Linked DNA regions of Homo sapiens. The protein of the gene in region 1 interacts with the protein of each later gene in a biochemical or structural test. Each region holds a gene or a part of one and is shown on either strand. Other genes may lie near its edges.

Region 1 (2,578 bases):
TCCCTTCCCTGGAACTTTCCAAGGGGCCCTTAGAATTTGTATTCAGCTCTCACAGGCTGAGACCAGGGTGACATCCTGGGAAACCTGCCTAGTGATAGCCAAGGTGTAGCTCCAGATGAAAGGCACACAACTTTAAATATAAAAAAGCCATTCAGGCTAGGCTCAGTGGCTCATGCGTGTAATCCCAGCACTTTAAGAGACTGAGGCAGACAGATCACCTGAGGTCAGAAGTTCAAGACCAGGCTGGCCAACATGGCAAAACCCTGTCTCTACAAAATATATAAAAATTAACAGGCATGGTGGTGCATACCTGTAATCCCAGCTACTCAGGAGGCTGAGGCACAAGAATCGCTTGAACCTGGGAAGCAGAGGTTGCAGTGAGCCAAGCCTGCACCACTGCACTTCATTCAGGCTGGGCAACAGAGTGAGACTCCATCTCAAATAAATAAATAATAAAGCCATTCAACTAAAGAACCGATTATCAAGCAGAAGCACAAAGCCCAGGTTCCATCAGGTTTTTAATTGTACATCAGTGACTGTGAAAAAGCAATTATTCCCATAATTAAAATACAAACTATAAAAAAACAGACTCAAAGAAAAGAAAGATGACAGAGTGAAAGAAGGTACATTTCTTTCGTGTTCAAACCACGGAGTTCACAACACAGCAGCACACACAGCTGGGCGCTTTGTGGTCTCGGCACCCTCGGCTTCCCCTTCACGGGGCCGCTTTCGACTAGTAGAAGGCTGAAAATAAAGGAAAATGGAGAAATGTTCAAAAGAAAATCACTGGCTTCTTTAAGATTATCAAAGTTCCTCAATATGCTTCCAGTAAAGTGGGGGCATTTGATGTGAAATTCTAGAACCAAAAATTACTGGTTGTCATCATTGACAACTGAGTCCTCACCACAGCCCCCAACTCAGACATGCTTATCTAATAGATATTTCTCTCCCTTATGGCTTCTGACCTCTGAACGATGTATACTGAAAGCAAGTAGCATAACCAACTTCCTCTTGATCGTCCTCTTCTAAATATCAAGTTTAAAAGGACTATAATACCTCTCAGTTGAAGCCCCAAGTCTTGGTCTTTTGCGGGAAGACAACCTTTGTGCCTTAGTTGTTTTCCCATATATAAAATTGGGAGGAAGGCTGGGTGCGGTGACTCACAGCTGTAATCCCAGCACTTTGGAAAGCCGAGGTGGGCAGGTCGCTTCAGGTCAAAAGTTCGAGACAAGCCTGACCAACATGGCAAAACCCCATCTCACCTAAAAATTCAAAAATTAGCTGGGCACAGTGGCGGACACCTGTAATCCCAGATACTCGGGAGACTGAGGCAGGAGAACTGCTTGAACCCAGGAGGCAGAGGTTGCAGTGAGCTGAGATTGCACCACTGCACTCCGGCCTGAGTGACAAACCAAGACTCTGTCTCAAGAAAAAAAAAATTGGGGGGAGGAAACAGTGGGAAAAAGGACAGCTACCATTCAACAACAACAACAACAACAAAAAAGCAGGACTGGAATTAACTTATACTCACAAAGAACTTTAAAGAATAAAATTGTAATCAAGGAATCAACTACTGACCCAAATTTTAATTTGTTCAACAAATTTATATTTGAGCCTCTAATAGAGTCTTTCGAAATTGCCTTGCAGGTGACCTTTTGGATGACAATCCCTAGCTGTGCTTATCGGTCTATTATGTGTTAGATATTAAACATATCCTGCATTTTTAAATCTAAGGGTGCTGGAGCGAATCAAGTTAAAACAGAGTTTCTACTACATTATAACTGAAACAATGTTAAGCAATTGCTACTCAGGAAAATCTTGAATTTCATCATCTTTGCTTATCAGCTCCTTAAGCCCAGACTACATTTAGTGATCATCAGGAATACGAATACCTGGGCTAGAACCTGGGGTAGAGCTGTGGATTCATTTTCCTCAGACAGAAGATCTTGAAACTTTCTCTTCATGTCTTCATCCTGTGAGGGAATTAAAAACATAAGTAGCTGTGTCTGAAGGATAATAAACTCCTAGAATGACAGGGCTAGCATGCCCCTGTGGAAAGAGGGAGGAAAAATGTCCGTCCAAGAATCATCCCCTTGATGAAGCTCCCACAGCGAAGGCATTATGTGTTGCCCGCCTCTACCTTCCCAGAGGAGTCTAATTAGCAGTCAATGCTCCATCAATCCTGGCTGACTCACATCCACATGCCTAAAAGCTCTCAGTGGGTCAATCACAGCCTCCAGCAGTCAAGAGTTTCTTAATTAGTATCCAAGATCCTGAGAAAGGTGGCAATCAGGAGGCCAGAGGCTGGGCCTGACTCCGTGCAGCTCCTCAAATCCTTCCCGGACCACTCTCCACCTGCTGCCCCTGCCATGAATGAGGCCAGTCACCCAGACTGTCCTAACAACCAGCCCAGCACCCTAGGAAAATTCACCCAGCAGATGCCATACAAATTTTCAGAAGTACTTAAGCCCACAGTATCCCAGAGCTCAGGTCTAATGAGAAAGGGAGACAATAAACAGAACCAAGTATTTTGTTTCTGCTGCAGGAGCGGGAGGTGAGGGGTTTCATGCTGCAGGAG
Region 2 (3,406 bases), on another chromosome or scaffold:
GCAGCCAGATACCAGAGTGACATACCTCATACCATGGCCCATTTCTTACTTTATAAGTAAGTTCAAACTATTTCTTTGAAATATCCAGCACCAATGACAACATCCTCTAAAACCTACTTTAACCCAACCTATTTAGACTTGAATCATTTTTCACTTAGATTTTTTTTTTTTTTTAAAGAGACGGGGTCTTGCCATGTTGCCCAGACTGGTCTCAAAATCCTGGGCTCAGGCAATCTTCCTGCCTCTGCTTCCCAAAGTGCTGGGATTATAGGTGCCTGGCCCTAGATTATCTTTAATTGCGTGAATTCTAATCCAATCAAAAGCAAGATGAGAGAAAATGTAATTATAGTACCAGAGGAACTTGAAAGGTCTCATATATTCCCTCCTCCCTTTTTTGGAAATAGCATACATACGATTTTAGTATCAATTTTTATTTATGTTTGCCCTAAACTCCTTTTGCTATAATCTTTTGTTTTCTTAAAGATACAGCCCAAGTCATCATAAAACGAATCCTACTATAATCTATTCTAGATTATAGAATATTAATAATATTATTATATAAGAAGATTCTAAGCACTATTAGATACAGTAGGGTCTCAAAGATTTCTGAACTACATATGTGCAGTTCTTTTAATAATTCCTCTGAGGTTCTGTATTTTTGTCTTTCAATTATCATCAATGCCTTCCTCCAATATTCCCTCATGTTTCGGGGGGAGAGGGGGTCAGTGTGAGGTGATGAGAGCTGAAGAGTCAAGATCCAAGATCCCCAATTTTCAAATCCAGCCTCACACCAACCAACTGTAGGACACTGGACAAATCCCTGAGCCTGCTATGTAGATTTCAGTTTTCTTCATACAAAATGAGTACATTTGACTAGAATGATGCTTCTCAACCCTTTTAACATTGCAAACAAAACTTGTCAGCAAAAAAAAATTTAGCACACTGGACAACAGGAGGGCATTTGGAGGCATCTACACAGTGCCTGGTGAAAAAAAATTATCATATTTTCTAATTACAGAAGAAAAAATGTAAAGTGTTATGGTAGATATTTTTTGACACATGTAATGCTGAAAATTTTAATATGAATTTCAAAACCAAACATTTTCACATCAAGAATATTTCAAAATTAAAATCATGCTTTATTTCTGACAAACATACATGCACTATTAGGCAGTCACCTTGCAGAGCATATCAAACGCACGTGGTGAGCAGCATCCAATACAGGTGAATACAGATAGTCAGGCCTGGAGCTGGGCCACCAGAGACACCCTCCCTGCTTCCTTGTCCTCTCATTGTAAGTGGGTTGCACCTTGTGGTAGGTGGCATGTTCCTTCGGCACCGTGAATACAAACTCCAGTAACAATTCCATGATCCCTTTCCCACAAAAGGCAGCTGTACACTGTGGCTGGCTGCTGAAGTAGATTCCAAGTAGTAAGGCACACCTCATTTAATGCACTTAAAATATCAAAAGGAGCAGTATGCTGCTTTTAACTGTTGGTTGTCACTCACCATGCTATTTGTTCACAGGAACCCCAACGCCTTCCTTCAGCCCCCATTCTACTAGGACTACCCTTCTGTGAGCCATGTAACATCAACTGAAAACTTTGAATTAGAAGATCTCTAACAATAACTAAAGTTAAAAACAGTATTGCAGTAATCATTTGTTTGTAACAACTATTATGGTCTCTTATTTTTTCCTTCTTACCAATTCCTGTAAGCAAAACATAACTTAAAAATATTAACTTTGAATAGTATTACATGCACATGATTTTAAAATACTGAAAAATTACCAAACAGTATACTTTAAAAGTTAGTCCATCTTTGTCCTCTAGGCAACCACTTCTACACACTGGAGCAATTACTGTCATCAGACTCTCCCGTATCCTCCCATGCACATTACATTCTATAGCTGCCTATATATACACACACACACACACACACACACACACACACACATATGGATTTTATTATAATAAAGAATTTTATTCTAATACATAGGCATATATAGCATATAAAAATATATATTTTAACCACACGAATGGCAGCAAACTGCACATGCAGTCATGCCTCTTGCTTTTTTTCCTCATATCTTTGACATAGCACCACAGCAGTACACATAGTATTCTCTCATTATTTTTAAAGGCTGACTAGTATTCTGTTGAATATATACACCATAATTCACCTAACTACTTCCCTACTGATATGTTTAGCATGTTTCCAATCTTTTGCAGTAACAAATAATGCTGCCACAAATATTCTTAGATATTTATTTGACATATATGCAAAATCTTCTAGAGAATAAAATCCTATAATGGAATTACTAGAACGAAATAAATCTGTGTTTTAATTTTTGAAAACCATTTTCAAACTGCTTTCTATAGAGTATGAATACTTTATAATCCCACCAGCAATGTATAAGGCTGACCATTTTCTCTTCTCACCTTTCCCGAGTTATACTATACATAACCTTTGCTCATTTGATAGGTGACAAAGAGTATGTTGTAGCTTGAATTTACATCTTTATTATATTATAAATAAAGTTGTACATTTTTTCATATGAATTCTCTTTGCTAATTTTTCTACTGGATTATTTTCTAGTTCTTTGTATTAAGAGGAACTTAGCCCTTTGTGAAGTATACAAATAAGTTTTACTAGTCTGTTTCTCTTTTAACTTTGTTTGATTTTTTCCCCTGTACAGAATTTTATTTTTATGTCCTAAAATCCAGCAACCCAGTATGCTATTAAAGGACTTCACCAATCCTGGATTACGTAAAAAATAATTACCCTACCTTTTTTGTTTCTTTGTTTCATATTTAAATCTTTAACTCCTCTGGAAGCCAACATTATTTTTCCAGATGACTAACTGGCTATCCCAACACTGTTTATTAAACAATTCTTCTTTTCCCTACTCATAAATGAAGGTGGGATCCATTTTCATATACAAGTTGAATACCCCTTATCTGAAATGCTTGGGACCAGAAGTGTTTCAGATTTTAGAATATTTGCACATACATGAGATATCCTGAGGATGGGACCAAACCTGAATGTAATTTTATATAATTTTAAATAATGTTACACATGAAACAAAGTTGTTTTGATTGTTTTTGAGACAGGGACTTGCTCTGTCACCCAGGCTGGAATGCAGTCATACAATCATGGCTCACTGCAGCCTTCACCTCCTGGGCTCAAGCGATCCTCCTGCCTCAGCCTCCCAAGTAGCTGGAACCACAAACGTGTACCACCCTGCCTGGCTAACTTTTGTATTTTTTTGTAGAGATAGCGTCTTTCCATGTTGCCCAGGCTGGTCTTGAACTCCTGGGCTGAAGCAATCCTCCCACCTTAGCCTCCCAAAGTGTTGGGATTACAGACATGAGCCACTGCATCCAGCCTGAAACGAAGTTTTGAC

The links. Proteins that work in one complex are often made in the same cells at the same time.
Region 2: of the proteins of CHEK2 (region 1) and REV3L, one has a biochemical effect on the other in vitro, tested with the Homo sapiens proteins (one study listed by BioGRID).

The regions. Positions count from the first base shown.
Region 1 is NC_000022.11:28,687,243-28,689,820, forward strand, and holds the end of CHEK2 (serine/threonine-protein kinase Chk2), read right to left. Parts: intron 1,974-2,578; coding exon 1,893-1,973; intron 745-1,892; coding exon 655-744; 3' UTR 501-654; downstream 1-500. UniProt on the Homo sapiens protein: Serine/threonine-protein kinase which is required for checkpoint-mediated cell cycle arrest, activation of DNA repair and apoptosis in response to the presence of DNA double-strand breaks.
Region 2 is NC_000006.12:111,473,068-111,476,473, forward strand, and holds part of REV3L (DNA polymerase zeta catalytic subunit), read right to left. Parts: exon of another isoform or gene 1,179-3,406; intron 1-1,178. UniProt on the Homo sapiens protein: Catalytic subunit of the DNA polymerase zeta complex, an error-prone polymerase specialized in translesion DNA synthesis (TLS). Lacks an intrinsic 3'-5' exonuclease activity and thus has no proofreading function.